Homo sapiens: one gene and its partner. The protein of the gene in region 2 purifies or fractionates together with the protein of the main gene of each other region. This does not show direct contact. Each region holds a gene or a part of one and is shown on either strand. Other genes may lie near its edges.

The links. Proteins that work in one complex are often made in the same cells at the same time.
Region 1: the proteins of SLF1 (region 2) and SIMC1 purify together in Homo sapiens (co-immunoprecipitation; one large-scale study listed by IntAct). This does not show direct contact.

What each region holds. Positions count from the first base shown.
Region 1 is NC_000005.10:176,241,424-176,244,923, forward strand, and holds part of SIMC1 (SUMO-interacting motif-containing protein 1), read left to right. Parts: intron 1-3,500.
Region 2 is NC_000005.10:94,684,669-94,688,168, forward strand, and holds part of SLF1 (SMC5-SMC6 complex localization factor protein 1), read left to right. Parts: intron 1-1,904; coding exon 1,905-2,050; intron 2,051-3,500. UniProt on the Homo sapiens protein: Plays a role in the DNA damage response (DDR) pathway by regulating postreplication repair of UV-damaged DNA and genomic stability maintenance.

The DNA.
Region 1 (3,500 bases), about 82 Mb from region 2:
TATTATGCCTTCGTTTCTAAATTTTCTCTAAGAACCCAGTGAAAAATTCCCTCATAATCTTTGTACTCTTGTTCATTTGTTTATTAAGTTCCTCTTAGAAGTTAGATTGCTGAGTCAAAAGGTGTGCCCTACTTTATATGTAGCTAACCCTTGAAGAACACGGGGATTAGGGTTGCTAACCCCCCCGTGCAGTTGAAAATTTACATGTAACATTTGACTCCTCGAAAACTTAACTACCAGTGGCCTACTGTTGACTGGAAGCCTTACCAGTAACATAAGCAGTTAACTCATGTTTTGTATGTTATATGGACTCTTACGATAAAGTAAGCAAGAGAAAAATGTTAAGATCATAAGGAAGATAAAATACATTTACAGTACTATACTGCATTTGTCAATACCATAGGTTTACATCGTCTGTTTACAAGATAAATCATCTGTCTGAAATAGGGGACAACCACAGCTGCAGACCTCTATCTACGGTACATCTCAAGCGATTCAGCTTTTCTTATGTCATGACTTTTCTCTGTTTCTTGAGAGCACATCCAGCATCACTAAGCACTTTGTATGGGTTTCATGGTGTTATTCAAGGTTTACGATATTACCCTACACATGATTAAACAAGTATATGTGGAAAAAAACCCAGGAGAGAACACTTGTTACCGTGATACACAGTTTACTGGGAAGTAGTGCAGAAATTGATTAGTGTCACGTGGCGTTTTAAGTGGATCCTCACAACACTTGAGCCCACCACAGCAGCAGCAGATGTCTGTGGTAGTAGGACATTATTATCACGGTAGTACAGTGTAGTCTATGGTAAATTTTATGCAGTTGTGATACAAATTAAAAAGAAAAAAATAATGAATTTAAAAATATGCAGTTGTGAGTTAATATTGCATCTTTACATTTCTGTCAACTGCAGATGTCACCATCTATGGTCAGTAAGTGATTGTGTGCATAAATTTTGATAAAGTTTAACTTTGTATAATAGATTTGTGTTGATTTTATGGTAGTAAATGGATAAAATAGGCTAGTATCTACATATATTTTATGCATTCAGGACATATCTTTTTCTTAGTTTTTTTCAATTTTTATAGGCTGTGGAGTTCATCTGTGAGTTTTCCAAATTGTTATAAATCGCCAAAAAATTTTCCAATATATTTATTGAAAAAAACTCTCTTGTAAGTGGACCCATGCAGTTCAAACCTGTGTTGTTCATGAATCAACTGTATTGCCAAATTTCCTACAGAAATTGTGCATTAATATTCTTACCAGTGGTATATGGCCAATCATATCTCTTTCTCTGCTGCCTAGTCACCCCTAGGTATTGTTACATTATTCCATAAATATTTATTGAACACTTATTATATACCAGGCACTCTTAGAGGTGCTGGGAATACATCTATGAAAACCAAGTCCCTGCCGTCATGGAGATTTCATTTTACTGAGGGGACACAGATAGTAAACAACACTATAAATGTAATGTCAGGTGATAATACAGAGTGTTAGGGGAAAAAATACGGTATTTTTGTTCTTTTAATCTTTGCTGTTTGATAGCCAGATTCCATAAGATGTCATTATTTTTTATTTTTTTATTATGATTCATTTATTCAATAAATATTTATTGAGCATATGCTGTAACCCTGGGGACCAGAGGTGAACAAGATGATAATGGAACTACATTCTACTGTGGAAAGATAGGCAGTAAACAAACTAACAAATAAGAGAACAGTATAATAGTAACTTTGGTGGGATTGGGAACATTTGATTGTGTTTTCAGAGAAGGCCTCTCTGAAGAGTTAATATTTGACCTGAGACTAAAATGACAACAAATTAGTTATAAGATCTAGATGAATAAGGCATTGTCAAAGGGAACAACAAAACCAAAAGTTTGGAGGCGGGAATGAGCATGACTTACTGGAAGAATGGAAAGCCAGTGAGGCTGCAATGTAACGACTGATGGACAGAGTCAGAAGAGATGAGAAGTAGGTAGGTTAGGTTATAGGGCTTTGGAGACCACAATAAGGGATTTGGATTTTATTGTAATACAGTAAGAAATCTTTGAAGGTTTAAGCAGGACAGTGACATGATTTGATTTACTTTTTTTTTTTTTGGAGATGGAGTCTTGCTCTGTTGCGTTGCCCAGGCTGTAGTGCAGTGGTGCGATCTCGGCTCACTGCAACCCCCACTTCCCAGGTTCAAGCAATTTCCCCCACCTCAGCCTCCCGAGTAGCCGGGACTACAAGCACACCACCACGCTTGACTAATTTTTTGTATTTTAGTAGAGACGGGGTTTCACCATGTTGGCCAGGATGGTCTAGATCTCCTGACCTCATGATCCACCCGCCTCGGCCTCCCAAAGTGCTGGGATTACAGGCGTGAGCCACTGCACCTAGCCTTGATTTACATTTTTTAGAGATGACTTTAGCTACTGTGAAAAGAAAAGATGGTAAGGTAGGGAGACCATATAATTTATCATCCAATTGGGAAACTTTTGCAAATGAAAAGGGATGCTAACTGGACCAGGATGTCAAGCAACAGGTGAAAACTGGAACTGTCCCAAACAAAGCAGAAGTGTAGTCACCCTACTGTAAGAGGGGAAGAGTGAAATTAGGGAGATCAGTTAGAAGGTTGGCTGTAGTAGTCCAGGTCAGAAATAACTGTAGCTTGGACTGGAGTGGTGGTACAGACTGGGAGAGTGGAGGGATGTAGATATTTAGTAAATAAAATCAACAGGTCCTGATAACTTGGATGTGGATAACAAGGGAAAGGAAGGAATGAAGAAGGATGCCCTGAGTTCTGGCTTGAGCAACTGAATGCATGTTGGTGTCATGCATTGAAATGAAGCAGACTTGGGAGGAACAGGGTTAGAGGAAAGATTCAAGAGTTCTGTTTTGAAGGTATAAAACTTAACGATGCCTGTGGAATAGCCAACTGGAGATGCCAAGTATAACATTTGTACTGAGTTTAGAGCTCTGAAGAAAAGTCCTGACTAGAGATACAAATTTAGTCTTGTTAGCGCATAGGTTATAGTGAAGTCATTGACCTGGATAAAATCATCTAGGTTGAGGTGACAAGAGGAAGAACATCCAGAACCTAGCCCAAGGGAACACCATAGTGTCCCAAGGGAGGAAGAGCAGCTAGTGAGGTTGGAGATAAAGGAGTGTGCTCACATGCAGTACAGCCAGACATCTTGCTTATGTTTATTGGAAACACATAGGGTATGTGTGCAAATTCCCTATGCTTGTCCTTTGCCCATTTTTCTGTTGCAGTGTTATAATGTTTCTTTTTTTTTTTCCTTTTTTTTTTTTTTTTTTTGAGAGGGAGTTTCACTCTTGTTGCCCAGGCTGGAGTGCAATGGCGCAATCTCAGCTCACTGCAACCTCCACCTACCTGGCTCAAGTGATTCTCCTGCCTCAGACTCCCAAGCAGCTGGGATTACAGGCATGTGCCACCATGCCCAGCTAATTTTATATTTTTAGTAGAGACAGGGTTTTACCATG
Region 2 (3,500 bases):
GCCTGGGCAATAGAGCGAGACTCTGTCTCAAAAAAAAAAAAAAAAAAAAAAAAAAGTATCTCTGTAGAGGCCATATTGGAAGGGATTATCTAAATTCAGTGATAATATATCTGTTTGGGGTTAGTTGTATCTGGTTAACATCTGACCTGAAGCCATTTGCCCAAAGGTTTAAACACTCCTTATGACAAGCTGCCACAAGGCAAGGGCATCAGATCTCTTTAGTCAAGGCAAGTTTCTCAGCCTGTATACTGATTATGTTTTGGGCTGGATAATTATTTGTTGTTGGGGCTGTCCTGTGTATTGCAGCGTCCTGGGCCTTTGCCCACTAGATGCCAATAGCATCCCTTTCCCCAATGTGGCAACCAGAAATTACCAAATGTTACCTGAGAGCAAATCCTCTTTTACTTCTCCCATCCACTATTGAAAATCAGAGTCAAGGGTCAAGGACTACAAGACACTAGAGCCCCAGCCTTTTATGAAGGCATCTGAGCAGGACATTGACTGGGTGTCTGCATTCTCTTCACGCTGAAAGAATTCCACCCCTGAATAGAGAGGCCAGCTTTTATGCCTTATACTGCTATTAAGTTTATCATTGTCTGATTTTAAAACTATATTTTAACTTAATGCTTATAATTTTAATTCTTCTCTTCTGCTGTTTATTATGTTTACTTTGCTAACTGTATTGACTTATTCTTTATTCTTCCAGTATTTATAGTTAATCTCCCTTATTGTATAATATCACAACTTTTTTATATTGTTTGTAATTTTAGCTTTTTTGATATCCTCTTGGTTGGTCTTATTTATTCTTTCATTATCATTTTGTTGCATTTTCATTATGTTACATAGAGAATATTAATAGTTTATAATATTAAATAGATCACATGGGAAATAGTCACTCCTTTATCACTTTGAATTCATGGGTATATTTATGCATTTTCTTCTTATTGAAGTTCTTGAGGTTTTGTAGAAGATATTTGAGGCTCTTGGTGTTTTCTTGTTTTTTGTTTCATCATTTAAAATTATCCACCATCTGGCACGCACCTGTAGTCCCAGCTACTTGGGAGGCTGAGGCAGGAGAATCGCTTGAACCTGGGAGGCGGAGGTTGCAGTGAGCCGAGATCGCACCACTGCACTCCAGCCTGGCAACAGAGCGAGACTCCGTCTCAAAAAAAAAAAAAAAATTATCCACCATCCCCCATAGTAGAGTGGGTGCAAACTTCTGAGGAAGTCGTTATACATGCTCGTTTCATGTTTTTCTTCTTTATACATGCTCCTGTTTCATGTTTTTCTTTATACATGCTCGTTTCATGTTTTTCTTCTTTACCTTGTGCCTTTCTTGTTTTTCTTCTTTACCTTGTGCGTTTCTTCTTGTTTCATGTTTTTCTTCTTTACCTTGTGCCTTTCCTCCTTTTCTGCAGTGATAAGATTCATGGGTGTTGTCATAGGAAGCAGTCTACTTTCTTCCTGTCAACTCAGTACTGATCATTGCAAATTAAATACTTGTATGTTCATTTAAAAACTAATTACTGGTTTTCCAAAGAAGCATCCCTATTGTGGGAAGAGATCTTTAATGGTAGTTGGAAAGTATAGTGATAAATAAAATCCCCTCTATATATTCATATATTACCTAATCTGTATATATGTAATTTCAAGACTTGTATCTGAAATAATCAAACCTAATGATTGTTTTTTTCAAGTGTGAGAACATGTGCCATTAAATATTTTCTCTTAAAAGTCAAGGAATAGTGATATGACCTATTTTTTGTGGATTAAAATCATGTGGATGAATCTTATAGGTGTAAGAGCTCTCATTTGACAGAATAAACTTCACTAAGGAAATAGCCTATGGAAAAAATTGTATAGGATACAGCAATAACTATATTAACTTACCTTATGTTCTCCAGACTTTTCTTCACAGGAATTAGAGATTTTCATTTGCTCCTTTTCCTCCTCCTGGCTTCAAATGTTTGTTGCAGAGGCAGTCTTTAAAAAGTTGTGTCTACAGAGCTCTGGCAGTGTTTCTTCTGAGCCACTCTCTCTTCAGAAAATGGTAAGTACCTCTCTATTCTGGTTCTTTACATTTTCAAGAAGTGAGTTCACAAACTCAATTTTATTTATTTAGTTATTTATTTATTTTGAGATGGAGGCTTGCTCTGTCGCCCAGGCTGGAGTGCAGTGGCGCAATCGCGGCTCACTGTAAGCTCCGCCTCCCGGGTGCATGGCATTCTCCTGCCTCAGCCTCCCGAGTAGCTGGGCTACAGGCGCCCACCACCATACCCAGCTAATTTTTTTGTATTTTTAGTAGAGACGGGGTCTCGATCTCCTGACCTCGTGATCTGCCTGCCTCGGCCTCCCAAAGTGCTGGGATTACAGGCGTGAGCCACCACGCCTGGCCCACAAACTCAATTTTAAAAAATTCTTAGTTATTTCAAGTAAGTAGGCAGAATATATTAATTCATAAATATTTCAATTCTGTATAAAAGCTAGTATATTTCTGTCTCTAATTAGAGTAATGAAAGCCAGCGGCCGTGCTGAGTGCCTGTAGGTGAGTGCCTGCAGGTGAGTGCCTGTAGTTCCAGCTACTCAGGAGACTGAGGCGGGAGGATTGCTTAATCCCCAGAATTTGAAGCTGTAGTGCATTATGGTTGCACTTGTGCATAGCCACTGCATTCCATCCTGGACAACATAGTGAGACCCCTTCTCCAGGGGCAGTGGGGGGAAGGTAATCACCAAATAGAAATTTTAAGGCCGAGCATGATGGCCCCTGCCTATAATTCTAACACTTTTGGAAGCTGAGGCAGGAGGATCCCTTGAGCCCAGGAGTTCGAGACCAGCCTGGGCAACATAGCAATACTCTGTCTCTAAAAAAAAGTTAAATTAGCTGGGCATGGTGGCACATGCCTGTGGTCCCAGCTACTCGGGAGGCTGAGGTGGGAGGATCCTTAATCCCAGGAGGTCGAGGCAGCAGTGACCTGTGATAACCACTGTACTGTAGCCTAGGTGGCACACTAAGACCCTGTCTCAACAACAACAACAACAACAACAACAACAAAGAAAGAAAAGAAAGGAAAAAGAAATTTTAATTACTTTTGAGCGTAGCCAAGGGTTGATCATAGAAAACTAAAAAATCCTTGTTTCCTAATAAAATTCCTACATAGGTTATTATTTTGGAAAGAACTAGATCCAACAAAATTCTAAATGGTATTTAAAAAGCAAAATATTATGCATATAAGCTACATTTGATTTAAAGTTTTCCAGTTTTATTTTGGCTATCTTTAGATATTAATATTTAATAATAATTATTTATTATTATTAATAAGGCAATATTAATTTAGATATGTAGATATTAATATCTATCTTTAGATATTAATATCTTTAGATATTAGTCAAATTCTGTTTTGCAACAATCCTTTAAGGATGTTTTTATTCCTTATTTTGTTTTCTGTTGAAGAAAGACTTGTTTTCTGTTCAAGGCATTATCAGAATGGAAATTACAAAAT